Homo sapiens: one gene and its partners. The protein of the gene in region 3 interacts with the protein of the main gene of each other region in a pairwise test. Each region holds a gene or a part of one and is shown on either strand. Other genes may lie near its edges.

Region 1 (8,507 bases), on a different chromosome or scaffold from region 3:
TTGCTGTAGGGACTTTGTACAGTGTAGGGTGCTTAGTGGATCCCTGGTCTCCACCTGCCAGATGCCAGTAGCCTGCCCCCCTCCCCAGTTGTAACAGCAAAAACTAGACCTGGCCAAATATCCCAGGGAGGGGGCACAAAGTTGCCCCTGATTGAGAACCACTGACGTGCAAAAATAAAACCTATATTATCTCTTGGCTTATACCCCAAGATATTGTGCCCAAATATCTTCAACTTTATCTCCTAAAACTATAACTCACACAGACTCTGGAATCTCTTATAGTTCTACAAAAGATTTACTCTTTCCAAGTATACCCCACCTTTGATGACTCCCAGACTAAAGTGCCCCATTTTTCTACTTTTTGTCCCCATTTTCTACTGGAATACCTTTTTGTCCTTATCCTTCCAAACTAATCTCAGATAATTTCTCCTGTTGTAAAATCTTCCCTGTCAACACTAAAGATAATTTGTCCTTCTTCCTTATGGATCCTACATCACTTACTATCTATTGTAGCACTTGTCACTGTAATTTCTTCTTTTCACAAATGTTTTAACCTGACCACTACTACCACCTACTTACAACTTTTTGAGTTTAGAAAAGAGATTCTATATACTTAGCATGTAGTACAATGCCCAACACATACTAGGAGTCTTGACAGCTATTAGATAGACGAATAAGGGAATGACTGAATGAGTGAATGAATGAATGACGTCACATCCTTCTCTCCCCGGCATGGAAATATGTTGCATGTTCTGCATGCAGAGTGAGTTGCCGGCTTCATGTCAAGAGGGAATCCCCCTTTAAGAAGAGAATCTGAGCTGCTGTTCCTGAAACTTCCTGAAATCCCACCTGTTCCTGAAACTTGCTCTATTGAGACTTGAGTTTCAACTTGATGCTAGAGAAAGTTGTTAAAATTTATTTTTTTAATTCATTGATGGATGCATCTCTAATGTCCCAGTCATAAAAATAATCTTATATTTAACAAATCCCAGTTATAAATATTTTGCGTGGGGCTCTGCTTAGCATCTTGATGTAAAATTTATACCTAAGTCTATTTTGGCAAACATCAAATTAAACTTGTAAGTATAAAGGAAATCAGAGTGTCCTTGACCTCCCAAGGCTTAGATGATCAGCAGTTTTTAAATGACATTCCTTGAAAGCGAACTTTGATTTTTTAAGCACTGGGCCTGAGGCTGTAATCAAAGGCACTGATGATATTTAGATGATTTAGAAGAGCACAAGCTGATCTGCCATCATTCAGCTTGCAGGATACATTTATCTTCTGTAAGCAGTATGAAACACCTTTGTTTTTGTATTGATTCTATTCCTTTAGAAAATTATAGGTTTTGTCTTGTTATGTTGCCTACAGTCAAAAGAAACGATTATGGAATTTACAATTACAGGAAGGAGGTCATTAAAGCGGGCCAGGTTGGTTTTATCGAGGCTCTGCTTTACTTCTATTGGAACAATTTTATGCACGCAACAGCACATCAAATAGAATGCACCAGAGGATGATTTTAGGAACTTAGTTAAAAGCCCTCTCAGGATTTTGCATACATTTTAAATAATACTCAGCTAAACACATAATCACATGTTTCTCATATACTTTCAAAAATCCCATATGGTTAGAAATTGCTGCCAGATTTCCCTGTGTTGATAAACAGAATGACATTTAATTAAACAGTCCTGAAAAATACTTTCTTTCTTGACTTTATACTCAGACAAGTTAATAAAGTCCCCATTTCAGATGACGAAATGACACATTGCCTGCTCCTATTCCAGTTTTCTGCCTCAAATGTCTTCCTGGAGAGACTCCATGTATGCCAGCCTTCTCAAGGATTTAAGAGTATTAAACCAAGGTTAGATGGTAGCTAGTGTTCTTTGATCTCACTGTACACATTGTTATTCATTTTTTTCTTCTTCTTTTCTTTTCTTTTTTTTTAGATATGGCGGTCTCACTATGTTGGCCAGGTTGGTCTTGAACTCCTGGCCTCAAGCAATCCTCCCACCTCAGCCTCCAAAGTGTTAGGATTACAGGTGTGAGTCACCACACCTGGCCTGGTTGGTATTGATTTTTAAAAAGTGATTTGTTACTTGTTGTCCATGAAACTTGGTGTGCTCTAAATAGGTTGTTTGTTTCACTACATGACATTCCATATACTTACCATCAATTCCAATTAATAGGAATTCCAATAGAATGGCTGAAACAAATTGAGTAGAACAATTACTAACTCCTTTAGACATTATTATGTTAGGCTGAACTATTTTCTACACTGGCTCTATCTATGGGTCATTGCATCTGGCTATTTAGATGGCAAGGAAATGTAATTGAACCAAAAATCCTAGTCATTGAGCAACGGGCTGTTTTTGTTTTGCTTTTTACCTGCCAGCTGGTTCCTCATCTTTGAGGTTTGCCCTGACAGCTCTGAAGCTTGGGTAATATACAACAATATAGACAAAGTAAGGAAATAATTAGGTTGTATGATAGTAATACATTCCCATCCTGAAAACCACAGTTTTAAAATATTCCTATTGTTTCCCCTGTCCTCTGCTCATTTGACAGTTACCAGGAGCTTTGGGCAGACGGGGAGAGAAGTGCATATGTTGTCATCTGACGCTCTGCTGCCTCCATAGCCCATGTTAGCAATTAGCATGGTGTAGATTAAGTACAACTACACAATAGTCATCAATTCCCAATGTTATCGATACATTAGAAAGGGGCTCTGATTTCCAATTAAGTACTGAATAATTGAAAGAAAAATGTGTTGTTGCAGGTTGTTGAGAAACACCTCTACCTCCATTTACCCTTTCATTAAGAAACAGGGATAAAAAATATTGCGATATCAGGATATCTAGAATTTGGAAGATGTGGAATCATCCTGATGAGTCCAAGGACAATCCAGAAAATCAGCTGTGATTCAGACTCCGGTGTGCCCCGTGGAGGCCATGGGTCATCCAGGAGCCTTGTATACCTGGAGGATGAGGAGCCACCTGGGGGGAATTCATTCTAAGGTAAAAAAATGTCATCCTGGCATAGTGACTTCGACCCAGTTCAAAAGCCCGCGTTGTTGAAGAGGAGCCGAATTCTAGGCATGGTGTGTTTACAGTGAGTGCTGTGTTTCCCAGATTTTCCATCCACAAGGATCTGAACTTTTTAGGAAGAGAGAGAGAGAGAGAGAGAGAGAGAACTCAGAATAACAGCTGAATGAGCCACTCTTTGAGAGTGCAGTAGTAGGTTAGCTCAGCAGGTCTGTGTTGTCCAAACCCTGCACTTTCCAAAGAAAGGTCTGTTCTTTGACAGCCTTCCAGGGGATAACCTCTAAACCCTTGGAATATCCTGCCTGATCATAACGTGTTTGTTTACCTGGAGCTTTGAGTCATGCTAGACAGTTAATGCTGATGATTTATAGTGGGGGCTTTGGGCCACCTGTATCAGTCTTGACCTCTGGAGGGGCTGGTGACTAATTTCGGTCATGCAGACAGTCGGCCATGCCTACATGCTCCCAAAACCACACTGGATGTCAGGCTTGGGGGAGCTCCCTGGGCAGCAATGTTCTGTGCAGGTTTCCTCACATCACTGCTGGGAGAATTAAACATCATTTGGTTCCATTTCCCAGCTGCTGAAAAACTGTAATGTTGGGAAGAAATTAATAATTCAGCTTAAATCCAAAGGAAGAATGTTGATTGTGTAGATTTTGTAGAATTTTTTTTAAAATGTTGAGGGAAGAAGGGAAGACCAACTATGTAGAAAAGGGAGCCTTTATTATGAACACACAACTCTTTAAAACAAGTGAAGTAATACCCATGTAGAATAAAAGCAAAGAAAAAAGAAACAATTCAGATAATCATCACATAAGAACACTTATATGTTTTATTTTATCTTATTTTATTTATTTTATTTTATTTTGAGACAGAGTCTCCTTGTGTCACCCAGGCTGGAGGGCCATGGTGCGATCTTGGCTCACTGCAACCTCCGCCTCCTGGGTTCAAACGATTCTCGCGCCTCAGCCACCCAAGTATCTGGGATTACAGGCGTGGTGCCACCCAGTTTTTTTTGTAATTTTGGTAGAGACGGGGTTTCACCATGTTGGCCAGGGTGGTCTCGAACTCCTGGCCTCCAGTGATCTGCCCGTCTCAGCCTCCCAAGGTGCTGAGATTACAGGCATGAGCCACTGCACCCAGCCACTTACATGAAACATCTGACTGCATTGCTGAATTCAAAATATCTGAATATGTTATACAGAAAAATGTTTTGGAAATCTAATGAAAATTAATAACGAAATACAATGTTCTACTTACAGTCATTGTTGACTTATCTTAATAATTTGTTTGTTTTGTAATGTGACAAAATAGATCTATATTGTTCATCTTGTCAAAAATATTTATGTGCAGAACTGTATTTTAAAACAAGCAAGTACAAAAGGAAATAAATTAAAGTACACGAATATTTTATTACCTCTCAAAATAGCCTGACTTGAAAAGACCATCACTCCATGGCCAATGGATCTACTTGATCCTGAAATAACCGAGAGTGGGGTGTATCTGTTACTATCAGCAGGTCAACCTTACAGCAACAAGAAGAAAGGCCTTTGACAACCTGATGGTCACTCCTGGGATTTCTATGGCTAACTTAAGTGGCAAGAACTAGCAGGAAACTAGTTGACTTTTTTTGAAGAAAGAAATGACAAAAGTTTCTCAATCAGTACCTTTTAGTCATCATTTCTTGGAAACAACTATACATCATACAGTTGATGCCTTTAAAGACACGACTTTGGGTATGGGCTCAGTGGCTCATGCCTGTAATCCCAGCACTTTGGGAGGCTGAGGCAGGTGGATCACTTTGATGTCAGGACTTCGAGACCAGCCTGGCCAACATGACGAAACCCCGTCTCTACTAAAAATACAAAAATTAGCCGAGAATGGTGGCACGCACCTGTAATCCCAGCTCCTTGGGAGGCTGAGGTGGGAGAATCGCTTGAACCCGAGAGGTGGAGGTTGCAGTGAGCCAAGATCTTGCCACTGCACTCCAGCCTGGGCGACAGAGAGAGACTCCGTCTCCAAAACAAACAAACAAGCAAGCAAAAAACATAAAAGCACAATCCATTGATAAAAAGGGTGCAGCTGGACATGGTGGAAACACACAGGGCATGGGAGGGAGCCTGGGCTCCACCTGCAAGGCGAAGGCCATTCTAGCCAAAGGGGCAGGGGTGGCTGGAAGGAGCTCGGGGGCGAGGTCCTAGGCCCCGTCCACTTGGCTTCCATCCCGAGTCCTTGCATCCCTCCCCAGGAGGAGGCGCTGAAAACTTCTGGGGACAGAGGCCCCAAAGAACCACCACCCACCCCAGTCCACAGCAAATATGGGTGGTCCCTTACGGAAAGAGGGAAGGCGTGTCAGCAGGGGTCGTGGCCCCCAAGGTCCTTCACCCGCATGCGCATGCGCACTTAGCTGACCAATCAGAGAGGAGCGTGGATAGCCAGGGCAGCTGCTCTCGCGAGAACTGAGGACCCATTTTTCTAAGAGAGCGTCGTGGTGCCAGTGCCTGCAGGTTCTGTGAGGAAGCGGCATCAGGGGTCCCTCAGGTGAAGCGCTCGCGGTGGGGAGGCAGGAAGTCGAGCATGCGGCCCTCTCGCAACCAGGGTGTGAAGCGCAGGTGAAGCGCTCGCGGTAGGGAGGCAGGAAGTCGAGCATGCTGCCCTCTCGCAACCAGGGTGTGAAGCGCTGAGCGGCCGGCTGACCTGCACACGGGCAGCCCGAGACCCCTGGCCCCTTCTTGGCTTTGGAGTCCACCATGCACGTGCTAAGAGGCCCCAGGTTTTCAAAGCAGGAAATGGCCCTGGCATCGTTGCCTGGGGCCTGGGTCAGGGCGAGGCCCTGAGGGTGGGCTGGGATGGGCCAGGGCAGGGAGGGAGCTGGAGACACCTGAGTGATCCCCAGGGCCCAGGAGTGTCCCCGGGACTTGTGCATGTGTGCAGTGGGTAGGGGTGGGGCAGGGGAGGGGGGCTTGGGGGAATGGAGGGGGTGGAGAGGGGAGCAAGGGAGGGGTGGTGGCAGAGGGTGGAGGGTCGGGGAAGTGGCAGACAGGCAGGGGCCGGGTGTGGGGCCAGGGATGGGGGCAGGGGAGGGGAGGGGTGTGGGGTTCGTGGGGTGAGGGGATGGGGGAAGGGGAGGAGGAGGGGCGGAGTGTGTGGGGAGGCGACAAGCAGGGGTGTTGTGGGGGACAGTTCGAGTGGGTCCCTCCAGCCCGGCCGCCCGTCAGGACAGGACACTTGGGGTCACGAGGGGTCACCTGGGCATCCAGGCAGGCAAGTGGCAGTGCAGCCCCTGACATTCCCCCAGAGATGGCTGGGGAGGTCCTGTGACACCCGTGGTCCTCCGGGCCACGCAGGTCTCTGGGGCACACAGGGGCAGGGCTGAACTCTGTCCCAGGGACACCGCAAGGATCCTGCAGGGGCCATTCAGGTGTGCGAGGCAGCTGTGAGTTCTGCAGCCAGCCCCAGGGACGGGCTGGACGGGCCACGAAGGATAGGAGGGGACACTGGCATCTTCTCCGACCCCTCCTGCTCCCACAGGATACACGGGGTGGGCCAGCCCCACCCTTTCTTGAATCCGAGATCCCGTTGGCTCTCCTTTCACATATCCTGTTTCCTTAGCTTACTTAGTTTGACTTTGCACTCAACCAGGTTCAGGGATCGCCTCTAACTTCCCAGGACAGCCAACCATGGAGCCCGTGGGCAGGAAGCGCAGCAGGAAGGCTGCCAAAGCTCAGTTGGAAGCTCAAGTTACGGCCGCCCAGGGGGCCACGAAAGAAGGTGCACGCCCAAGGAGATGGTCTGTTTGCTCTCTGCGCGGGGGGCACATGGGCAGCCCGAGACCCCTGGCCCCTTTGTGGCTTTGGAGTCCACCATGCACGTGCTAAGAGGCCCCAGGTTTTCAAAGCAGGAAATGGCCCTGGCATCGTTGCCTGGGGCCTGGGTCAGGGCGAGGCCCTGAGGGTGGGCTGGGATGGGCCAGGGCAGGGAGGGAGCTGGAGACACCTGAGTGATCCCCAGGGCCCGGGATTGTCCCGGGGACTTGTGGATGTGTGCAGTGGGGAGGGGTGGGGCAGGGGAGGGGGGCTTGGGGGAATGGAGGTGGTGGAGAGGGGAGCAAGGGAGGGGTGGTGGCAGAGGGGGGAGGGTCGGGGGAGTGGCAGATAGGCAGGGGCCGGGTGTGGGGCCAGGGATGGGGGCAGGGGAGGGGAGGGGTGTGGGGTTCGTGGGGTGAGGGGATGGGGGAAGGGGAGGAGGAGGGGCGGAGTGTGTGGGGAGGCGACAAGCAGGGGTGTTGTGGGGGACAGTTCGAGTGGGTCCCTCCAGCCCGGCCGCCGGTCAGGACAGGACACCTGGGGTCACGAGGGGTCACCTGGGCATCCAGGCAGGCAAGTGGCAGTGCAGCCCCTGACATTCTCCCAGAGATGGCTGGGGAGGTCCTGTGGCACCCGTGGTCCTCCGGGCCACGCAGGTCTCTGGGGCACACAGGGGCAGGGCTGAGCTCTGTCCCAGGGACACCGCAAGGATCCTGCAGGGGCCATTCAGGTGTGCGAGGCAGCTGTGAGTTCTGCAGCCAGCCCCAGGGAGGGGCTGGACGGGCCAGGAAGGATAGGAGGGGACACTGGCATCTTCTCCATCCCCTCCTGCTCCCACAGGATACACGGGGTGGGCCAGCCCCACCCTTTCTTGAATCCGAGATCCCGTTGGCTCTCCTTTCACATATCCTGTTTCCTTAGCTTACTTAGTTTGACTTTGCACTCAACCAGGTTCAGGGATCGCCTCTAACTTCCCAGGACAGCCAACCATGGAGCCCGTGGGCAGGAAGCGCAGCAGGAAGGCTGCCAAAGCTCAGTTGGAAGCTCAAGTTAGGGCCGCCCCGGCGAAGAAGCACACAGGTAAACACAGCCCAAGGGGCCAGAAAAGAAGGTGCACGCCCAAGAGGACGGTCTGTCTGCTCTTTGCGCGGGAGGCACATGGGCAGCCCGAGACCCCTGGCCCCTTCGTGGCTTTGGAGTCCATTGTGCATGTGCCAAGAGGCCCCAGGTTTTCAAAGCAGGATCGAGGGCCTTAGGCTTCCCGTGGGAGGCTCCCCCTCATAGCAGGGTTACAGATGCTCGCAGAGCAGCTCTTCTCCATGGATGCGGTCCTGACATCCAAGGGGTCTGACTTGTGAGCGTTGTTTACTAGGACTTGAACCGGAAGGGCTTCCAAAAATGCCTCGGTAAAACGGTCCGGAGCCCAGTGATTCCATGCATAGCTCTGCTTTAAAGCTTTAATTGGTAGAGAGCCAAAAAAGTCCACAAATAATAAGTTTCTCTACAAAAGATGTCCACAACAGCGTCTTCCTCTAAAAATGGTTTGTCTTTTACATTTTAATGCAGGAAAGGATCCAGTCCGTGATGAATGTGAGGAAAGAAACCCTTTTACAGAAACAAGGGAGGAAGATGTAACTGATGAGCATGGGGAAAGAGAACCTT
Region 2 (5,927 bases), on a different chromosome or scaffold from region 3:
CTTTCCTCATCGCAATGTTCCACAGCTGCAGTTGTGCCAAGGCCTCTGAGTCCCAGTGGAGCTCCTTCAGTGCACAGTTCACACAATGGTGAACTGGCTTGGAGATGCCAAGAGGAGTTCTGGTGCACACAGTGTGTGATGATGATGGCCTTGCCTGTGCCCAGGTCACCCATACCGGCAGCTGGTACAGGCTGACACACTGTGCTGGCCACAGTTCAGGGCTGGAGAGAGACTCCAGGAGTGCAAGTATGCTCTCGTTTTAGGTTCTTCATTTTGATTCATCTCTTCATTGGCTGGATTTCATTGTAACATAGTTTTCAAGAAGGTAGAAGAGAACTACGTTCCGTTCCCTATATCCTTTGATAAGAATGTCTGCCTATTTCCTTTATAGTCAAACATCATCTCGTTTGGCAAAATATGTGTTAGTAAAACTTTTCTCAGAATACTGAATGCATTGATCGACTTCCTCTGGCATTGGACACAGTGGTGGAGAAGGCTGAGGCCCTGATGGGTAATTTAGGCTCTATTCTCTGTTCCAAGATCCCACTGAAGGTCTTAGGCATGAATTCAGAACACCCAGCCAAGGGTGTATCCCACTCTGCTGAGCTTCATCTTGGTCCCTTAGCTCATCTTAGATGAGTGGGAAATGCCAGACCCTGGTGCTCCTTCCTCTTGTTGATGAAAACTCTCGTTGTCTAAAAGAGTTTCTACTTATACCTTGGCTGCTTTCCTTCAAATCTTAGTTAGAGAGGATTTTCCATATTTTGTCATCTCACGCTTCTTTATTCAGAACTGCTTGTAGAAAAATAAAGTAACCATTCTTGTGAGTTCTTTAAAGGTGCTAGCTGACCAGTTAGGAAATCCACAACCCTTCCAAGTAAATAGTGTGAAAGTAGCTCAAGAAGATCCAGAGAATTCCTGGAGTTTTGTTTTGAGAAAATGAGTTTTGCCTTCTTATTCATTCCCACTGTGGAAATTCTGAGTTTCATCAAGGATAATCTTTTGTAAGTTATAATTGTTTTCTAGGTATATGCTGGGAGATTTTCACTGTTGTCATTAAGAATAAAAGTGTTGCAATTTTCCCAGTTCAAGCATGGAAGAAAATTTATTCAGGAACTACAGACAGAGTAAATAATACTGTGCACAGACGAGTTAACAAATTAATTTTCCTAATATCCCTCAAACAATATCTGTGAAGATTATTTAGGGAGAAGTGAAAATAGACAAAACCCAATTATCCAACATCACATTAAGTTGCTTAACTTGCAAAGTTTTCAAAGAAATATTTTCACAGAATTAGAGAATGTTATCAAATATATAATGAAAAATATCTCAGTAGCCCAGTCCATTTTCCATCAGGTGAGCCTTCGACAAGATTTAAACATCTTTTTATCATTCTTCTGAAAGCAATCTATACCGATTATCTGGTATAGATTTTCTGCAAAGGAAAACTGGTCTCTCAGAGACTTGAGTCTCTTTAAGGCTTTAAAAAGGGCTTTCAGCAAGTATTTCCTTCTTGTAAAATAGTAGGATTCAGGGTAAATTACTTGCGACCTTAAATCATACTGGCAGCTTGTCATGCCTTCAGGGCTCAAGTAGAAGATCTTTGTCATGACACACACTTTTTTAGTGTAACCACCAATTTTTGCCAGCTTCTGCTTTAAGGTTAGGGCAGTTTGTGTAGAATAGCCTTTAAACTCCTCATCCTGTACCATGTGGAAGGTGTATAGGACTGGAGGACTGTCCTGGGAAATCAGAAGAGCATCACAGAGGACTTTGTGGTTCTCTTGCAAGCCCAGATCCACAGACCAGCTCCTAGAGAAGATCAGTGAGCCCTTTCTGACAGAGTCCATTTCTTCACATATTAATTGCTTAAGTCCTTCATGTTGTAAGAACAGTTTTCTGCAAAGGTTTTCTGGAGTATACGTTATCCTTCCTGATAGCCCTGAATAAGGAAATAATAATAATAAATTATAAAACACTAGGAAGTTCCCATTTAAGCCATGGCAAAGTAGCTTGTAAAAAACCAATCTTCCCATCAAAAACACTGTAAAAGTTGTATAAAATATATTCAAACAATAATTTAAAGAACTAGAAAGCACCAATAAAAGCAGTATTTGAAGTGCCACAGTCTTTGATAGAGGTGAAACACAGAAAGTAGCTTCACATTCACCCCTGCTTTTTCCCTAAGTAGATTTTCTATATCATGGCATGGGTAAATAGAACCCAAGGAGAAATCATCAGTCTTATTAGGCTGAGGAAAAGAAGTAAGAAGAGCTGGAATATGAGAAGTAAAATCTCAGAGAAAATGAAGCTGCAGAGAAGAAGCCAAAGTCTACATACAAATTTCCCTCAACTCATTGGCTAATACAGGTCAGATGCTGGAAACACAGAAGAAAATATCAACTGGGAGACTAAAGAGCTGAATGTAAGTTTCTTCAGCCTCATGGTGCTCAGGAAACACAGACTGGAATTCCAGTCCCAAAAGAGTGGAGGGATCTTGGTAAACACCAGCGACATTACAGCAATAGAAAAGCCATGACCTAGTAGTAACGGCAAAATTAAAAACTATTATACCTAGAAAAGGATAAAAAAACTTCAAAAGAATAAAAGCAATGGGTGGTACTCTAACTACCTGTCAGAAGTAAATATAGCCCTTTTTGGAGAAATGTAATATCTATCAAAGTCTCTACAATTTGTAATCCATGATACAATAAAAAATTACGAGACAGAATAAAAATCAGAATGAATTACTAGAAAACAGGAGAAAAATCAGATCAGAGAAAAAGACTGACAAGTGCTTCAGATATTGTAGTTATCAAAGAGGGACTTTAACTGTAATATATTTAAAAACAAAAAATAATAATAAAATAGATGAAAAGATGAAGATGTCCTTATTCTCTTACAGCCTTAGAAAAACTAAAATTGAGGGATAAAAATTGTGTGGGCATTCCTTAACTGAAAAATACAGTAGGTGGTAATAAGAACTTATTTGATAATATTTAACAGCAGACAGAGCATAGCAGAAAACAGGACTAGTCAATAGGAAGACAGGATGGTAGCAAAAGTCCGAACTCAAACTCAATAAAAAAAAAAAAGGTAAAAACAGAAGATAAGAGATATATCCGAAACTGTCAAAAGGTCTAGCAAATTTATAAGTCCCACAAAGAGAAAGGAGAGAAAAATAAGATAAGCAATATTTGAAGAGATAAACAATTATAGTTTTTTCAAAGTTGATTAAAGATATCACTCACAAATACAAGAGTATACCAATCCTTCTCAGACTCTTCCAAAAAAATTGAAGAGGAGGAAATACTTCCAAACTCATTTCATGAGGTCAACATTACCCTGATCATGAAGTCAGTCAAGGACACTACAAAAAAAAAGAAAGTTACAGGCCAATATCACTGTTGAAACTAGATGCAAAAATTCTCAACAAAATGCTAGCAAACCAAATTCAACAGCACATTAAAAGGATCATTCGGCCCAGTGTAGTGGCTCACGCCTGTAATCCCAGCACTTTGGGAGGCCAAGGCAGGTGGATCACCTGAGGTCAGGGGTGCAAGACCAACCTGGCCAACATGGTGACACCCCGTCTCTACTAAAAATACAGAAAATTAGCCAGAAATGGTGGCAGGCACCTGTAATCCCAGCTACTCGGGAGGCTGAAGTAAGAGAATCGCTTGAACCCGGGAGGTGGAGGTTGCAGGGTGCCAAGATAGCGCCATTGCACTCCAACCTGGGTAACAAGAGTGAAACCATGTCTCAAAAAAAAAAAAAAAGAAAAAAAAAGATCATTCATCATAATAAGTGGGATTTATCCTTGGGATGCAAGCATAGTATAACATGTGAAAATCAATAATTGTGATATACCACATTAATAAAATGAAGGGCAAAACTATATGCTCATATTAACGGATACAGAAAAAGCATTTTACAAAATTCAACATTCTGTAATTTAAAAAAACCTCTTAACCAACTAGGTATAGAAGGAATGTACCTCACCACAGCAAAGACCATATATAAAAAACCTAGAGCTAACTCCATGCTCAATGGTGAAACATTGAAAGCTTTTCATCTAAGATCAGGAACAAAACAAGGATGCCCATTTCACCACTTCTATCCAATATGGAAGTCCTAGCCAGAGCAATTAGGGAAGAAAAAAGAAATAAAAAGAATCCAAACTGGAAAATAAGAAATTAAATTGTCACGGTTTGCCCACAATGTGAACTTATATATAGAAAACCTTAAAGATGCCACCAAAAAATGATCAGAACAAATAAAAGAATTCAGTAAATTTTCAGAATACAAAAATCAGTAGCATTTCCATACACTAACAACAAATTATCCTATAAAGAAATCAAGAAAACACTCCCATTTACAATAGCTACAAAAAATACTTGATAATAAATGTTATCAAGGAGATGAAAGATTTCTATACTGATATCTATAAAATGCTGATGAAGGAAATTGGAAAAGACACAAATAAATGGAAAGATAGCTTGTGTTCATGGATTGAAAAAATCATATTTTTAAAATGTCCACACTACCCAAAGTGATCTACAGATTCAACGAAAACCCTATCAAAATTCCCATGTCATTTTTCACAGAAAAATGACTGTATACCTAGAAAACCCTAAAGACTCATCCAAAAAGCTTCTAGATTTGATAAATGAATTCCATTAAGTTTCAGGATACAAAACCAATGTACACAAATTAGTACTGCTATACAGCAAGAGTGACCAAGCTGAGAATCAAATCAAAACCTCAATCCCTCCGACAACAGCTGCAAAATAAAATAAAATACTTAGCAATATACCTAGACAAGGAGGTGAAAGATCTCTACAAGGAAAACCACAAAACACTGCTGAAAGAAATCATAGATGAAACAAACAAATGGAAACACATCCCATGTTCATGGATAGGTAGAATCAATATTGTGAAAATGACCATACTGACAAAAGCAATCTACATCAATGCAATTCCCATCAAAATACCATCATCATTCTTCGCAGAACTAGAAAAAATAACCCTAAAATTTATATGGCACCAAAAAAGAGTCCACATAGCAAAAGCAAGACTAAGCAAAAAGAACAAATCTGGAGGCATCACATTACCTGACTTCAAATTATGCTACAAAGCTATAGTTACCAAAACAGCATGGTTCTGATATAAAAATAGGCATGTAGACCAGTGGAATAGAATAGAGAACACTGAAAGAAAGTCTAATGCTTACAGTTCAATTGGATCTTCAACAAAACAAGCAAAAACAAAGTGGGGAAAGGACACCCCATGCAACAAATGGTGCTGGGATAATCGGCAAGCCACATGTAGAAGAATAAAACCAGATCCTCATCTCTCACCTTATACAAAAACCAACCCAACAGGAATCAAAGACTTAAATCTAAGACCTGAAACCATAAAAATTCTACAAGATAACATCAGAAAAACAATTCTAGACGTTGGCTTAGGCAAAGAGTTCATAACCAAGAACCCAAAAGCAAATGTAACAAAAACAAAAATAAATAGATGAGAAGTAACTAAACTAAAAGGCTTCTGCACAGCAAAAGAAATAGCAGAGTAAAAAGACAATCCACAGAGTGGGAGAAAATATTTGCAACCTATGCATCTGACAAATGACTGATATCCAGAATCTATGAGGAACTCAAACAAATCAGCAAGAAAAAAACAAAGAATCCCATCAAAAAGTGGGCAAAGGATATAAATAGACAATTCTCAAAAGAAGATATACAAATGGCCAATGAACATGAAAATATGCTCAACATCACTAATGATCATGGAAATGAAAATTAAGTCCACAATGAGACCATCTTACACCTGCAAGAATGGCCATAATTAAAAGTCAAAAAATAATAGATGTTGGCAAGTATGCACTGAAAAGGGAATTCTTTTATACTGCTGGTGTG
Region 3 (7,848 bases):
AGGTACTAGAGCATCACTAAAGATGGTTTCCAAACTATTTTAGATACTCAGGGAGCAAGTGAGGAAGCTGGTGAGCACAACAAGAGTGGTTAAGACAAAATTCCATTTATGTTGAAGGGTAAGGGTAGTTGACAGAAGGGTAGATACAGGCAGGGTTTGAGAAAAGAATTTCCGAGTTGTAAGGGAGTATGGACATATTTAGTCTTGTTTGAAGAGGAGTGAGTGCAGTTGTAAGTGCCTGATGTTACTTTGGGACAGCTCTATCCAATAAAAATGTGAATGCCACAAATGCGATTTTAATTTCCTATTTATTTTAGTAATTTAACCCAATATAACCAGATATTATTTTAACACATCAATATTTTTAAAAATTGCTAATATTTGTGGTATTAAATCTTCAAGATCATTGTGTATTTTGTACTTAACAGCACATCACAACTCAGACTAGCTACATTTCATGTACCGAGAAGCTACGTTTGGTCAGTGGCTACCTTATTGAACAGTGCAGGTATAGGAATTGTGGGAACAGAATATAGGGTTACAGTTTCTTTTAGGCACATTTGTGTATAGCAGCGGTCCCCAACCTTTTTGGCACCAGGGACCGGTTTAGTGGAAGACAGTTTTTCTTGGTGGGGTGGGGTGGGGAGTTGGTATCATCAGGCATTAGATTCTCATAAGGACCACACAACCTAGATTCCTGGCATGCTCAGTTCACAATACGGTTTGCAGTCCTATGAGAATCTGATGCCGCCACTGATCTGACAGGAGGTGGAGCTGGGGCGGTAATGCTTGTTCCACCACTCACTTCTTGCTGTGTGGCTTGGTTCCGGTTCCGTGGCTGGGGGTTGGGATCCCCTGGTGTATAGGATTAAACTCCCTGAGGATTGGGTTGGAAGCAGGAAGTGTGGAAATTGAAACTAGATATGGGTTTGAATCCTAGGTCTCCAAACTACTTTGGGAAAATTATACATCCTCCTCTTAAGGCCCCTTGTTTTTTAAAAGTAAATAAAAATACCTAGAACACATTAGGCACTATTTTTAAAGACAGAAAGTATATATTTAAGGAAACATGCATATACATTCTTTAGCCTCATCATTTGAGGTAGATATCCAGTAATTTAAGTTAACTTTTACCTTTTTTTTTTTAAAGCTAAAAATTAGGTTCTATCTTAAAGGGTAGGAAATAGAACCTTAGGAAGATAATGTGCAGTTTCAAAAGTTATTTTCTCTAAAGGACAAAATATTTTTTTGCCTAGAGGCAGTTGTTACTTTGCCCAAATAGCAAATATTCTTTGTGCCCAAACAGGTTTGGGATAACATTGGTAGAAGAGTTTTAACTATGTCAAAGTTTTTGTGTGTTTTCATGTTAGACGCTTATTTCTCATGTACTCGAGATGACTTTCCAAATATAATTTTTCTCCCTAGATATTTTTAGATGAATTACATGAACATGGACAACTGCATTCTATGTCATCTTGGATGGAATTGTATCCAACTATTAGTTCTGATATTAGATTCACTAATATGCTTGGTCAGCCTGGTAAGATTATTTTCTTTCCTAATTTACCGTTATGGTAGTAGTTGAAATGGGCCAAATGCAAAGGTGATTGTGTTGGGGGAAAGGGTGCTTTATTTTTGTTTTTTAAACAACAAAGTAATTGCAGCTCTTTGGTTAGAGCTAGCTTTTGACTTCTTTAGTTTTTTCATTAGGATCAACTGCACTTGATCTTTTCAAGTTTTATGTTGAGGATCTTAAAGCACGTTATCATGACGAGAAGAAGATAATAAAAGACATTCTAAAGGTAAATATATTTATTCTTACCTTTTAACCAATAGTATATCTTAAAAGTTAGTACTGTATTCCTTTGATTTATGCATTATTAATGTTAAGATTTCTTTTTTTTAGGATAAAGGATTTGTAGTTGAAGTAAACACTACTTTTGAAGATTTTGTGGCGATAATCAGTTCAACTAAAAGATCAACTACATTAGATGCTGGAAATATCAAATTGGCTTTCAATAGTGTAAGTTATGTTTTCTGTTGTAAGTAACTAGTTTAGTAGTATAGTTTTTAATTTATTCAGATAAAAGCAGCTAAGTTGCAGAGTGTTGGAATAAGGGAATATGAATAGAATTTTACAGAGTGGTAGCCAGTCTTTCAGGTAAGGTAAAACAAAAAACTTTATTTAGATGATGGATTGATATTAAACTTCCTTTGCTCAAATTAACTGGTATTATACATAAAATGGCCATTATAAATCAGGCCTTGGGCCACACATAAAGTACACTAACGATAGCTGATGAGCTTAAAAAAAAAATTGCAAAAAATCCTTATAGTGTTTTAAGAAAGTTTACAAATTTGTGTTGGGCCACATTCAAAGCGGTCCTGGGCCACAGGTTGGACAAGCTCGTTTTAAACAATGCGTGATTCCTAAATTAACAATAAATTATTTCAGCTAATAGTTATGATACTATTATAACTGATTAAATATGATTTTCTTAATAGTTACTAGAAAAGGCAGAAGCCCGTGAACGTGAAAGAGAAAAAGAAGAGGCTCGGAAGATGAAACGAAAAGAATCTGCATTTAAGAGTATGTTAAAACAAGCTGCTCCTCCGATAGAATTGGATGCTGTCTGGGAAGATGTATGTATACTTGTTATTTTTTTCTAATGGAATTCTTTTCTTTACAGTTGAGAAATTTAAAATATTTTTATTTTTCATTTTATAGCCACAAAAATAAGCTAAATTTATTTGTAGAATATATTAAATATATTTAGAATATAATAAAAGCATTAAATCAGCTGTTGACTCTGTTTAGGAATATTTGTAAAGAATGGTTTGGACTTTTGAAGGGAGGAAATAATGGACTTTAAGGGGACTGATTCATCACAGTTTTCACTTGCTGTTATGATTTATTTTAGATGTATCGTTGTACTTTTCTTGGTATTCATATATTTATTTTGTATCTGAATTTTTCAGATCCGTGAGAGATTTGTAAAAGAGCCAGCATTTGAGGACATAACTCTAGAATCTGAAAGAAAACGAATATTTAAAGATTTTATGCATGTGCTTGAGGTAATTTTAGAATTCTCATATACAAAATATATAAAATATAAACAAATTGAAGAACTTAGAATGATGAAAGTATGTTGCTTAATATTCACTGCTTTTATACAAATGTACTTACCTGGATGGTTAGAGAATGGTTTTTTTCCTATAAAAACTGCTTTTAAGTAAAAGAAACTATTAAGTTTCCATGGGAATATAAAGATTTGTATGTGAAGACTGTTTTGTATTTTTAGAAAGTTTTAGAAATTGAGCAGTTTGGCAGCCACATGGATTGATTGACTAATAAAGAAAACTTGAAATTTTTCTTGTAAAGCAGATAGAAGACAGCTTTTAGGCACATTTGAGGTATTATACCACATTAGCTGTGTAGAAAAGAAAGTTTCTGGAAAGTAATGGAATAAATGGTAAGTTTTTGTTAAAATAAGCAATGAAACAATAACATCTCAGGTCACTTTAATAGGTAAGGTTCACTGGGCACGGTGGCTCACGCCTGTAAAACAAGCACTTTGGGAGGCCAAGGTGTGTGCTGATCACCTGAGGTCAGGAGTTTGAAACCAGCCTGGCCAACATGGCGAAATCCTGTCTCTACTAAAAATACAAAAAAATTATCAGGGAGTGGTGGCGGGCACCTGTAATCCCAGCCACTCAGGAGGCTGAGGCAAGAGAATTGCTTGAACCCAGGAGGCGGAGGTTGCAGTGAGCCAAGATCATGCCACTGCACTCCAGCCTGGGCAACAGAGCGGGACTCCTTCCCCAAAAAAAAAAAAAAAAAAAAAGTATTTTGATGACAGTTTCAGTTAGGCCCTTGTAAGTATGCTGAATTGACCAATAATTATTGAATAATAGTATTCGATGCCTATGTGGGCCAGTGTTCTAATTGCTTTATGTATATTATATTTATGAACTGAATCCTTTCAATAAGCCTGTGAAGTTAATAGGTGAACAAACTAAGGCAGAGAGAAGTAAAGTGACTTACAGGGTTGGAAGCCGGGCATGTTGACCTTGGTCAGTGCTTTTAACAAGTATGCCATGCTGTCAGTTTTAGAGTAGCTAATACTTTATAAGCTAAAAACTAGTAGGTGCTTAATATTACAGTGTTGCATTGTAAATGGGCATAGGTCACTAAATTGACTATTTCCTATTTCTTGATTTATTGTTCTTGATTAATATAATGTTAACCACAGTTTTTTCTGTACCATGTACTCACGAAGGCCCTGTATTGTTTCACAGCTGCCTCTAGATGTGGTCCTGTTGGCCTTTTTTTTTTTTTTTTTAAAGCGGGGTCTCTGTCATCCATCCACTCCTAGGCCAGAGTGCAGCGGTGCAGTTATGGGTCACTGCAACCTTGAACTGTTGGATTCAAACAATCCTCCTAAGTAGCTGGAACTGCAGGCACGTGCCATCACACTTGGCTTTTTGTGGGGCTTTTTTGGTTTTTGTTTTTATAAAGATGGGATCTTGCTGTGTTGGGCAAGCTGACCTCAAGCAAGTCTCCTGCCTTGGCCTCCTGAAGTACTGTGATTATAGGTGTGAGCAACCATGCTGGGCCTCTAGATCTTTTCTGTGCCAAATGTAGTGCATACCAGAAGCATCTGCATTACCTAGGAGCTTCTTAGGAATGCAGAACCTTAGGCCCCATGGGGCAGAAATCCTGCGTCTGACTTCATTTTAACCAGATTCCCAAGCATTAAAATATACATTTAATTTTGAGAAGCTCTGCTCTAGATAGTGACTAACCTATTTTCCCCCAGTTCAAGAGTCTACAGATTCTTTCATGATCTATACTGGGGGTAAAGTAGTTAGGTGGTAAATGGAGTAAAAATGGTACCATAGGGAAGGGCTGAACACATTCAGATTTTGGGGCCTTAATAATCTGAGGCTTGAGGTATTAAAGAAAGGTAGGTTAGCATTCAGTGAGATCAAAAGGAGAATAGTCCATTCTGAGATCCAGATTTTCCATTTCCACTTCTGTAACTGAGGTAGAATTTATTCTCAAAGCCATAGAAATGTTTAGGGGCAAGGAGCTTGTACTGTAGCACCCCCCATCACTGCTAACCTAGTAATTGTTTTAATAAGTAGAAATCCACAAAGACAGCATATGGATGTCTAACAATGTCTTGTTTGAGGAGGAAGGAAATGGCTCCTTGGGGGAAATGAAAGAGGGGTAGCAGATTTTGCATTTATTCTGACATCAGCCTTATATATCTCAATTCAAGGATGGCTCTCAGGTTGTTCTTTATCTTAGTGCTTGGCCTAACTTGCTGACCAAAGCCAGATTGATTACAAAAACCATGTCTGAGTGTCATTGTATTTGACTGTCATTAAAAGCAGATGTCACTGCATATTACACTTTTCTTCTAAATCACACCATTCTCTTCCTTAAAAAATACTTTTTCAGGCTGGGCACAGTGGCTCACGCCTGTAATCCCAGCATTTGGGAGGCCGAGGTGGGCGGATCACAAGGTCAGGAGATCGAGACCATCCTGGCTAACATGGTGAAACCCCATCTCTACTAAAAATACAAAAAATTAGCCGGGCATGGTGGCAGGCGCCTGTAGTCCCAGCTACTCGGGAGGCTGAGGCAGGAGAATGGCGTGAACCCGGGAGGCGGAGCTTGCAGTGAGCTTAGATCACGCCACTGCACTCCAGCCTGGGTGACAGAGTGAGACTCCATCTCAAAAAAACAAACAAACAAAAACTTTTTCAGCTGGGTGCAGTGGCTCATGGCTGTAATCCCAGCACTTTGAGAGGCCAAGGCGGGTGGATCACCTGAGGTCAGGAGTTTGAGACCAGGCTGGCCAACACGGTGAAACCCTGCCTCTACCAAAAATGCAAAAATTAGCTGGGCGTGGTGGTGTGCACCTGTAATCCCAGCTACTTGGGAGGCTGAGGCAGGAGAATTGCTTGAACCTGGGAAGCGGAGGTTGCATTGAGCCAAAATCGCACCACTGCACTCCAACCAGGGTGACAGAGCGAGACTTCGTCTCAAAAAAAAACAAAAACAAAAAAAGCCCTACTTTTTCTACTAACAGTTTTTAACATTGTTTTGTTTAGATGTCTAAATGAGTGGGTATAGGATGGGCAAGAAGGAAAAGAAAAAAAAATTGACAATTCTTCACAGTTTCAAGGGATTACATTTCTATATATTGTAGAGTTTTACTCTAAGAACTTACTTCCGTAGCTTTTTAAAGATTCTTTACAGTCTGTCTACAGTAAGTGTAAATTCTTGAAATTTTTTTTTTGTCCCCGTAGCATGAATGTCAGCATCATCATTCAAAGAACAAGAAACATTCTAAGAAATCTAAAAAACATCATAGGAAACGTTCCCGCTCTCGATCGGTAAGGGAATTTATTATATGGTGTCATGAGTGTATTAAAGTGTTAGCATTATTATGAATGAAATTATTTGTGTTTTTTAGGGGTCAGATTCAGATGATGATGATAGCCATTCAAAGAAAAAAAGACAGCGATCAGAGTCTCGTTCTGCTTCAGAACATTCTTCTAGTGCAGAGTCTGGTGAGCATTTCTATTTATTTGATTAAATCATTGACACTGATATACTCAAAGTCTGACACTTTTTATCCTTTTGTGCTACTCAGAGAGAAGTTATAAAAAGTCAAAAAAGCATAAGAAGAAAAGTAAGAAGAGGAGACATAAATCTGTAAGCAAGCTTCTAATTTTTACGTTTCACCTAGGCTTTTGCCCTTAACTTCCTCAGAGATCATAGAACCTTTTTCTATCTAGTTCTCTGCAGCCCAGGACAGTTCAGGTGGGCACATAAACTTAGAGTTTTGTTGTTGCTCTTCACCTTAATCTTCCATTAAAATCAATTGTTGAGCTTTGAAAAAATACACACACCAGTGTTAGGATCCCCATCCTGGTCTTTAAAATTAATATTCTAGAAAGAGACTCGTGTGTGTGCATGTGTCTCTGTGTATGTATGTATGTTTGTGTGTATGTGTAGATTGCAGCTGTTGTTGAGAACCACAAGTTTAAATGTTAAAACAACCACTCTACTCTTGCAGTTCTTATTCTTAGGTGTACATTAAGATCCACCTAAGGAACTTTTTGAAAATCTGAAGGCCTGGGTATCACCACAGACCTGTTGAATTACATTCTTTTTATTTGAATTTGTGCATATCTAATGAATAACCATTTAAGCACTAACGTTAAATTTTAAATAATTCCTACTCAGCAATTTCAAGAAAATAATTTTATTAATACAGCTGTCTGCCTTATGTGTTAAAGCTAACAGCAGTATACTATGTACATATATAAACCAATATTATATTGAGTTGGTGAGAAATGTAGTATCTGTCTGTATTTACATAATAGATACTACACATCTATTATGTGGTAGTAAGTCTCATGAGTGGTATTTTATCCTTCAGAATATTATCCTTCCCAAGGGAAAGCTGTCCCCATGAATCTTGGGTAAATTTTACTAAATCCTTGAGGTTAACAATTCACATTTTATTTCATCTCTCTAAGAGCACATAACCTGTTACACATAGATGTTCTTAAATATTACCTATATAACAATGGTATCTTCATCAAAATGCTAACCTGTTATTTTCTATTCATACAGGACTCTCCAGAATCCGATGCTGAGCGAGAGAAGGATAAAAAAGAAAAAGATCGGGAAAGTGAAAAAGACAGAACTAGACAAAGATCAGAATCAAAACACAAATCGCCTAAGAAAAAGACTGGAAAGGATTCTGTAAGTATTTAGAATTGTTTCATGCCTGTATTTTCAAAATGCAAAAATGTATTCTGTGG
Region 4 (8,701 bases), on a different chromosome or scaffold from region 3:
TCAGCCTCCCAAAGTGCTGGGATTACAGGATGAGTCACTGCACTCAGCCGTGGTTTGTTTTTTTTTTTGTTGTTGTTGTTGTTTTGTTTGTTTGTTTTTTAGTAGATGGGGTTTTGCCATGTTGCCCAGGTTGGTCTTGAACTCCTGAGCTCAAGGGATCTGCCCACCTTGGCCTCCCAAACTGCTAGGATTACAGCTGTGAGCCACCGCACCCAGCCAAAATTTAGGCTTTTTTTAAAAAGTGAGATAACATGCCTGCCTGCACCGCAGAGCTATGAAGTCCAGGTCAGGGGTGTGGGGAGGACGGGGTTCCCCAGGTGAGTCTATGTAAGCGGGATGAAGCCACAACTCCCTTTTCCTGGACTAGTGAAATGAAGCTGGGACACCATCATCAGAAGAGATTCTCAGGGGGAAGCCAGGAGTCCCAGCTCCACCTACGCTATGCTCCCTGGAGCAAGGCGCCTTCCCCTCCTCTGGCCTCGGTCATCTTACCTGTAATATGAGGCTAAAGGGTCGGGCATGGTGGCTCACACCTGTAATCCCAGCACGCTGGGAGGCTGAGGTGGGTGGATCATGAGGTCAGGAGTTCAAGAGCAGCCTGGCCAACATACTGAAACACTGTCTCTACTAAAAATACAAAAATTAGGTGCGGGTGTGGTGGCGGGCGCCTGTAGTCCCAGCTACTTGGGAGACTGAGGCAGGGGAATTGCTTCAACCTGGGAGGCGGAGGTTGCAGTAAGCCAAGACTGCGCCACTACACTCCAGCCTGGGTGACAGAGGAAGACTCCATCTCAAAGAAAAAAGAAAAAGCCAGGCATGGTAGCTCACGCCTGTAATCCCAGCACTTTGGGAGGCTGAGGCGGGCAGATCACCTAAGGTCGGGAGTTTGAGACCAGCCTGACCAACATGGTGAAACCCCATCTCTACTAAAAATACAAAAATTAGCCGTGTATTTTGGCTGACACCTGTAGTCCCAGCTACACAGGAGGCTGAGGCAGGAGAATTGCTTGAACCTGGGAGGTGGAGGTTGCAGTGAGTCGAGATCGCACCACTGCACTCCAGCCCGGGTGACAGAGGGAGACTCCGTTTCAAAAAAAAAAAAACATGGGGCTAAAGGTCATGCCTGTCTTATGGGCTGCTTTCCTGGGGAATTCTGGTGTGAGCCTAAGAACCTGTGGCCTTGAGTCTGAGCATCTTTTCCCAGAGGAATGAGGCCCCACCTCCTGGTGGCCTTGCTTCGATGTCCCCTAAGCAGAACCCAGCAAAATGATGATGTTTTGCAAGCACTAGATCTGGAGTCCAGATTGGGTTCTTTCCATTTTTTTTTTTTTGTTTTTTTTTTTGAGACGGAGTCTCGCCCTGTCGCCCACGCTGGAGTGCAGTGGCGCGATCTCAGCTCACTGCAAGCTCTGCCTCCCCGGTTCACGCCATTCTCCTGCCTCAGCCTCCCGAGTAGCTGGGACCACAGGCGCCCGCCACCACGCCTGGCTAATTGTTTGTATTTTTAGTAGAGATGGGATTTCACCATGTTAGCCAGGATCGTCTCGATCTCCTGACCTCATGATCCGCCCGCCTCGGCCTCCGAAAATGCTGGGATTACAGGCGTGAGCCACCATGCCCGGCCTTTTTTTTTTTTTGAGACAGAGTCTTGCTCTGTCGCCCAGGCTGGAATGCAGTGGCGTGATCTCAGTTCAGTGTAACCTCCATCTCCCAGGTTCAAGCGATTCTCCTGCCTCAGCCTCCAGAGTATCTGGGAATACAGGTGCCCGCCACCACGTCCGGCTAATTTTTATATTTTTAGTAGAGGTGGGGTTTCACCATGTTGGCCAGGCTGTTCTCCAACTCCTGACCTCAAATGATCCGCCCACCTCAGCCTCCCAAAGTGCTGGGATTATAGGCGTGAGTCATCCTGCCCAGCCCAGAATGGGTTCTAATCCCAGCTTGGCAACTCACTAGGAATAGGAGTTTGGGAAGGCAGCATCCCCTAGGAGTCTTGCTTGCCACATCTGTGAAATGTGTATAAGTGTTTCACAAGAGCCTGGAGTCCCTGTGGACTGGAGGAGACGCTGCTCCGGGGAAGCTCAGATCCGTGCCCGGCACATAGTAAGTGCTCCATAAACTATCTCACCGCACTCTGGCTTCCACGGACAAAGGGGTAAAGCCAGCCAGGAACCAGCTTCCTGCTAGGTACAAAAGTCCCCCAACTGGGAAGTCAGGTGAGAAGACATACCTACCTCCCAGTGATCATTGCCTAAATCTGTGCTTCTCCTCACCTCCTTTGGAGCCTGAGCTCACCTGGGCAGGGGGCCAGGTAGGCAGGCATCAAACTCCTGGCCTCGACCGATTCTCAAGTCCCACTTAGGACTCAGGCAGCTTCCTCCCGTCCCCTCTGTCCACCATGACTTCCTGGAACTGGTTTAAGCAAGGGTGGCCATGGCAGATGTCAACACCCTATGAAACCCCTGGGGGTCAGTGACCTGCCTTGCCGCTGGCTCCAGAAGGGGAGCTCCAGGCCAGACCCAGCCATCCAGCAACTTCAGAGCATGCTAAGACTGGACTTCCAAAATTCCAAGGGCCCCAGGTCCCACTGCCAGGCCTAGCCGGGACAAGAACCCCAAAGCAGTTAACGGATAGGCCTTCCTACTTTTAAGCCACCTCGTCGCCACGCCCACCCGAGGGAAGTGGGCAGGCTTTGCCCAAGACCTCCCCAGAATCAGTTGGGGGCGCCAGGAGCTGGGGCAACCCCCACCCCCACCCGTGGCAAAACCATCTGTAGGGGAGGGGGCTTTGCGGTGGCGGGGGGTGTCTCTGAAAACCCCAGAAGGGAGGGCGGAGATTCTGCCCGCAGGAGGAAACTTGCCTGCAAATGGCGTTTCCAAAAGCAAACTGTTCAAAATTTAGAGAAAACCTGGTGGGCGGGGGGCGGTATTTAGCCCACCCCCTTCAATATCACCCCTTCTACGGGGCTCTTTCGCCCCTCAAAAGTCCCAGGAAGTGAGAAGAGGGTTTCAAAGTCTGAGCTTCGTTGCAGAAGTTGGATTTTTCTGGGGGGAGGGGTGACCAGCCTGGGCTGAAGACCCCTCCCCAGGCCGCAGAGTCCAGCAAATCCCACCCCGAGAAAGGCCCTCCCCGACCCCTCCGGCCCCTGGGGTGCCCCAGGACTCCATGGACACCGCCCCCCAGCTCAACTGAGACGCCCCCGCCACTCACCGCGGTCAACCGGACGTCCCAGGAACAGCTGCCGCGACTTCAAAACCAGCTTGGAAACCGTCCGGGCCGAGGCGGGGGTGGCTTTTACTGCGTGGTAGGTTGGGGGCGCACTGGAGTGACGGGCGAGGGGACCAATCAGGTTGAGGGATTGCCCGCGCCAGGCCCGCCCCTCTCCTCCCTGCCCCGCCTCCACTAGGCCCCGCCCCTCGCCAAGTCATGAAGTCCGGGAAGGACTCCACGCCCTGCCCCTGAAGGGGAGGGAGCACTCTTGGACCACGCCTGTCCCAGCCACGGGACCCCCGCTCCGCAGCTGGGGACCCTGTGAAGTTGGCCCTGGGAGGTGAGTGCGATCGGGGGCGCCGCACAGGTGCTGGGATTCCCCAGGTCGCCCATTTCCCCTATGGCCAAACTGAGGCTGCGAGAACCCTGGGAGAGTTGCAGGGTGACCCTCGCCAGCGCGTCAGGGGCCACGCCCTCCACCATGGGCTCCGACTCAGCTATATGTACACACACACACACACACACACACACACACTTTTTTTTTTTTTTTGAGACACAGTCTCGCTCTGTCGCTAAGGCTGGAGTGCAGTGACGCGACCTTGGCTCACTGCAGCCTCCACCTCCTGGATTCAAGCGATTCTCCTGCCTCAGCCTCCTGAGTAGCTGGGATTACAGACACGTGCCACCACGCCCGGCTAATTTTTTGTATTTTTAGCAGAGACGGGGTTTCACCATGTTGGTCTTGAACTCCTGACCTCAAGTGATCTGCCCGCTTGGGCCTCCCAAATTGCTGGGATCACAGGTATGAGCCACCGCACCCGGCCCAACCCAGCTATATGAGTGACTTGAACCACCACGGGAACTTGTCCAGCCTCCGGCCTGATCTGCCCAACATCAGACCACTTCATCCTCCCAGCACTGTATTGTCTTTTTAATCATCCCTATTTTGCAGAGAAGGAAACTGAGGCCTGGAGAGGGTCAGCCAGGGGCAATGGAGGGGTCAGGCTCCAGGCTCTGTGACTGCTGGATCAACCTTTTCCTGAAGCTGCCCCCACTTGGATTTTACCCCGCCCCTCTCCACCTCCCAAATTATTTATCCTCTTGGTCTATAAACCAAGGTCTCAATCTCAGATGGTCCAGGGAGGAGGTGAATATTTCTGCTGAGGAGGTGGCAGTGATGCCCTGCTTAGAGGGGCAGGGGAGAGCAGTGCCCTATGGGAGACCCACCTGGAGAGTCACAGATCCACAGGAAGTTCAAGCTGTAGACATGTCCTGCCTGTTAGGGAACAATTGGACCAAATGAAACCCAACTGGGGCTTTGTCCAGCCCAGGGGCCACCAGTTTGCCACCTCTGCCAAATTATTTGAATAGAATGAAGCTTCTGGTAGCTTTAGAAAGAACATGGGAAAAATTGGGTGTCTGTGACTGCATTTTTTTGGGGGGGTGAGTGGGGACAGGGTCTATGCTAGCACTGTCCAATAGAACTTTCTGCAATTCTAGAATTGTGTGCCATCCAACATTGTAGCCAAAAGCACCACGTGGCTAATGCACAGTGAGAAGCTGAATGTTTAAATTTTTTTTTTTTTTTTGAGGCAGAGTCTCGCTCTGTCTCCCAGGCTGGAGTGCAATGGCGCGATCTCGACTCACTACAACCTCCACCTCCCGGGTTCAAGCGGTTCTCCTGCCTCAGCCTCCCAAGTAGCTGGGATTACAGGCGCGCGCCACCACACCCAGCTAATTTTTGTATTTTTAGTAGAGACGAGGACTAACCATATTGGCCAGGCTGGTCTCGAACTCCTGGCCTCAAGTGATCCACCTGCCTCGGCCTCCTAAAGTGCTGGGATTACAGGTGTGAGCTACCGCGCTTGGCCTGAATGTTTAAATTTAAGTAACTTCAGGCAGCTAGTGAGATTCTCAAGTGAATCTGAGACCCCATTCCATGACATTTGTAACAGGCTTTTTCCTTCTCATTCACTCATTCAACCATATTTATTGAGTCCTTGCGCTGGGGACAGCGGTGAGCTAAACAGATAAGAATTCCAGCCCTGGTGACACACACTACCCAGTGGGAGAGACGAACAAGGAACAACATAAGTGAGAGAACTTTACAATGTGTCACGTGGTAGGACAGCAAAGGACGAGATGAATGTGGGGGATGCGGGGATTTTGTTCTTGTTTTTTGTCAAAGAGTCTCACTCTGTCACCCAGGCTGGAGTGCAGTGGCACGATCTCGGCTCACTGCAACCTCCGCCTCCCAGGTTCAAGAAATTCTTGTTCCTCGACCTCCCAAGTGGCTGGGATTACAGGCCTGTGCCACCATGCCTGGCCAATTTTTGTATTTTTTTTTTTTTTAGTAGAGACGGGGCTTCACCATGTTGGCCAGGCTGGTCTCGAACTCCTGACCTCATGTGATCCACCAGCCCTGGCCTCTCAAGGTGCTGGGTTATAGGCATGAGCCACCACACCCGGTGGGGCCGCAGTTTTTAGTAGGGAGGTCAGAGGAGGCCTTTCTGAGTGACATCCAAGAAGAGAAGAGAGAGAGGCCAGGAGGGAACCATGTCCAGTTAGGGGGAACAGCATTCCAGGCAGCAGGCACAGTCCGTGCAAAGGCCCTGAGGCAGGACCACACCCTGCCTGTTAGAACAGTGAGGAGGCCCCAGTGGCTGGAGTACAGTGAGTGAGAGAGAGGGAGGAGGGGAGGGCTGGGATGGCTCAGAGAGGGGAAGTGACTCATCCAAGATTCAAGGTCAGTGGGAGATTTGCCTGTTAACCCTTAACTTCTTAGTGGCCTTGAGTAACAAAATAGCTCTGGTCTAGGGGATGAGCCCTGGTGATTTTGCCCCACACCGTTTTTTGTTGTTTTTTTTTTTTGAGACAGAGTCATCTCCCAGGCTTTTGGTTCTTCTTGATGGCAACATCTGCCCAGGAGTCCCCGCCTGGCCTCCCACAGCCCTAGGGTGAGAGGTAAGAAATAGCTACTGTTGGCTGGGCGCAGTGGCTCACGCCTATAATCCCAGCACTTTGGGAGGCCGAGGTGGGCGGATCACCTGAGGTCGGGAGTTTGAGACCAGCCTGACCAACATGGAGAAACCCCGTCCCTACTAAAAATACAAAATTAGCCAGGTGCGGTGGCGCATGCCTGTAATCCCAGCTAGTCAGGAGGCTGAGGCAGGAGAATCACTTGAACCTGGGAGGCAGATGTTGCAGTGAGCCAGATTGTGCCATTGCACTCCAGCCTGGGCAACAAGAGTGAAACTCTGTTTCAAAAAAAAAAAAAAAGAAAAGAAAAGAAAAAAAGAAATAGCTACTGTTGGCCGGTGGCTCACACCGGTAATCCCAGCACTTTGGGAAGCCAAGGCGGACAGATCACTTGAGCTCAGGAGTTCAAGACCAGCCTGGCCAATATGGCAAAATCCTGTCTCTACCAAAAATACAAAATTAACCGGGTATGGTGACGCATGCCTGTAATCCCAGCTTCTCCACAGGCTGAGGTGGAAGGATCGCTTGAGACTGGAGGGGTGGAGGTTGCAGTGAGCCAAGATTGCACCACTGCACTGCAGCCTGGGTAGCAGAGCAAGACCCTGTCTCAAAACCAAAAATGAGATAGCTGCTGTTTTCTGGGCTATTTCATTACATTATTCAGCAGCCTGATTCCCATTTTCTTTTATTATTTATTTATTTATTTATTTTCGAGATGGAGTTCTGCTCTGTCGCCCAGGCTAGAGTGTAGCCGTACGATCTCGGCTCACTGCAACCTCTGCCTCCCGGTTTCCAGCAATTCTCTGCCTCAGCCTCCCAAGTAGCTGGGATTACAGGAGCCCACCACCACGCCTGGCTAATTTTTTGAATTTTTAGTAGAGATGGGGTTTCACCATGTTGGCCAGGCTGATCTTGAACTCCTGACCTCGAGATCCACCCGCCTCTGCCTCCCAAAGTGTTGGGATTACAGGCGTGAGCCACAGCACGTGGCGCTATTTATTTATTTACTTCTTCTTATTATTATTATTTGAGTCGGAGTCTTGCTCTGTCACCCAGGCTGGAGTGCAGTGGCGCGATCTCAGCTTACTGAAAGCTCCGCCTCCCGGGTTCACGCCATTCTCCTGCCTCAGCCTCCCGAGTAGCTGGGACTACAGGCGCGTGCCACCACACCCAGCTAATTTTTGTATTTTTAGTAGAGATGAGGTTTCTCCATGTTGACCAGGCTGCTCTCAAACTCCTGACCTAAAGTGATCCGCCCACCTCAGCCTGCCAAGGTAAACCAACTGTGATTTCTGTTTTCTGGATCAGGAAACTAAGGATCAGAGAGGCAGAGTAACTTGCCCCAGGTCACACAGCCAGAAATTGCCAGCCCCAGGGTTTGAACCTTGAGTTATGTGTCTTTAAGGTCTTTGGTTTCTGTTTGTTTTGGGGTTTTTTTGTTTTGTTTTGTTTTTGAGAGAGTCTCACTTCGTCTGGAAGTGAGGCTGGAGTGCAGCGGTGGGATCTCAGCTCACTGCAACCTCCGCTTTCCAGGTTCAAGCAATTCTCCTGCCTCAGCCTCCTGAGTAGCTGGGATTACAGGTATGCGCCACCACACCCGGCTAATTTTTGTATTTTTAGTACAGACAGGGTTTTGCCATGTGGGCCAGGCTGGTCTCGAACTCCTGACCTCAGGTGATCCACCCACCTCTGCCTCCCAAAGTGCTGGGATTACAGGCATGAGCCACTGCGCCCAGCAGGTCTTTGTTTTTGACATTTTCTACTCTTTCTCTTCTTTCCTTCCCTCTGCATCCCCTCCCAATTCTAGGACTCCTAATTCTTTCTTTTTTTTTTTTTTTTTTTTTTTTTTTTTTTTTGAGACGGAGTCTCGCTCTGTCACCCAGACTGGAGTGCGGTGGCTGGATCTCTGCTCACTGCAAGCTCTGCCTCCCGGGTTCACACCATTCTCCTGCCTTAGGCTCCCAAGTAGCTGGGACTACAGGCGCCCGCCACCAAGCCCGGCTAATTTTTTGTATTTTTAGTAGAGACAGGGTTTCACCATGTTAACCAGGATGGTCTCAATTTCCTGACCTCCTGATCCACCCGCCTTGGCCCCTCAAAGTGCTCGGATTACAGGTGTGAGCCACCGCGCCCAGCCAGGACGCCTAGTTCTTTCTCACTGAGAAGAGGGGAACGGCGGTGAGCATGCTGCCACAAGGTGGCACTGCTGGTCCCAGATGGGTCCCTGCCTGGCACAGGTGTTCCCTGTCTCTCCTCTGACCCTTCCTTCCCTCCATCCATCCATCCGTTTTTAAGCATGTCCTATTGAGTGTGAGCCAGGCCAGCGATTCACTGGATATGCAGTCATTCAACAAACAATAATTAAGCACCTGCTGTGTGCCAAGCCTGTGCTGGGCAGCCCTGGAGACAGACACAGGATGGCAGGATTGCATTAAGACTTCTGGGGCCAGCTATGGTGGCTCACACCTGTAATCCCAGCACTTTGGGAGGCCGAGGATGGTGGATCACCTGA

What was found.
Region 1: the proteins of PRPF40A (region 3) and FAM9A interact in binary tests that used the Homo sapiens proteins (3 or more experiments, as listed by UniProt).
Region 2: the proteins of PRPF40A (region 3) and SLFN12 interact in binary tests that used the Homo sapiens proteins (3 or more experiments, as listed by UniProt).
Region 4: the proteins of PRPF40A (region 3) and PLIN3 interact in binary tests that used the Homo sapiens proteins (3 or more experiments, as listed by UniProt).

Annotation. Positions count from the first base shown.
Region 1 is NC_000023.11:8,798,384-8,806,890, reverse strand, and holds the start of FAM9A (protein FAM9A), read left to right. Parts: upstream 1-5,507; 5' UTR 5,508-5,580; exon of another isoform or gene 5,581-5,651; intron 5,652-6,681; 5' UTR 6,682-6,719; coding exon 6,720-6,810; intron 6,811-7,796; coding exon 7,797-7,925; intron 7,926-8,411; coding exon 8,412-8,507.
Region 2 is NC_000017.11:35,409,983-35,415,909, forward strand, and holds the end of SLFN12 (ribonuclease SLFN12), read right to left. Parts: intron 1,946-5,927; coding exon 1,356-1,945; 3' UTR 940-1,355; downstream 1-939. UniProt on the Homo sapiens protein: Ribonuclease which is part of an E2/17beta-estradiol-induced pro-apoptotic signaling pathway.
Region 3 is NC_000002.12:152,657,830-152,665,677, reverse strand, and holds part of PRPF40A (pre-mRNA-processing factor 40 homolog A), read left to right. Parts: intron 1-1,425; coding exon 1,426-1,540; intron 1,541-1,698; coding exon of another isoform or gene 1,699-1,710; coding exon 1,711-1,802; intron 1,803-1,906; coding exon 1,907-2,023; intron 2,024-2,505; coding exon 2,506-2,643; intron 2,644-2,979; coding exon 2,980-3,075; intron 3,076-6,321; coding exon 6,322-6,408; intron 6,409-6,488; coding exon 6,489-6,585; intron 6,586-6,668; coding exon 6,669-6,730; intron 6,731-7,657; coding exon 7,658-7,789; intron 7,790-7,848.
Region 4 is NC_000019.10:4,864,399-4,873,099, forward strand, and holds the start of PLIN3 (perilipin-3), read right to left. Parts: upstream 3,270-8,701; 5' UTR 3,211-3,269; intron 1-3,210. UniProt on the Homo sapiens protein: Structural component of lipid droplets, which is required for the formation and maintenance of lipid storage droplets. Required for the transport of mannose 6-phosphate receptors (MPR) from endosomes to the trans-Golgi network.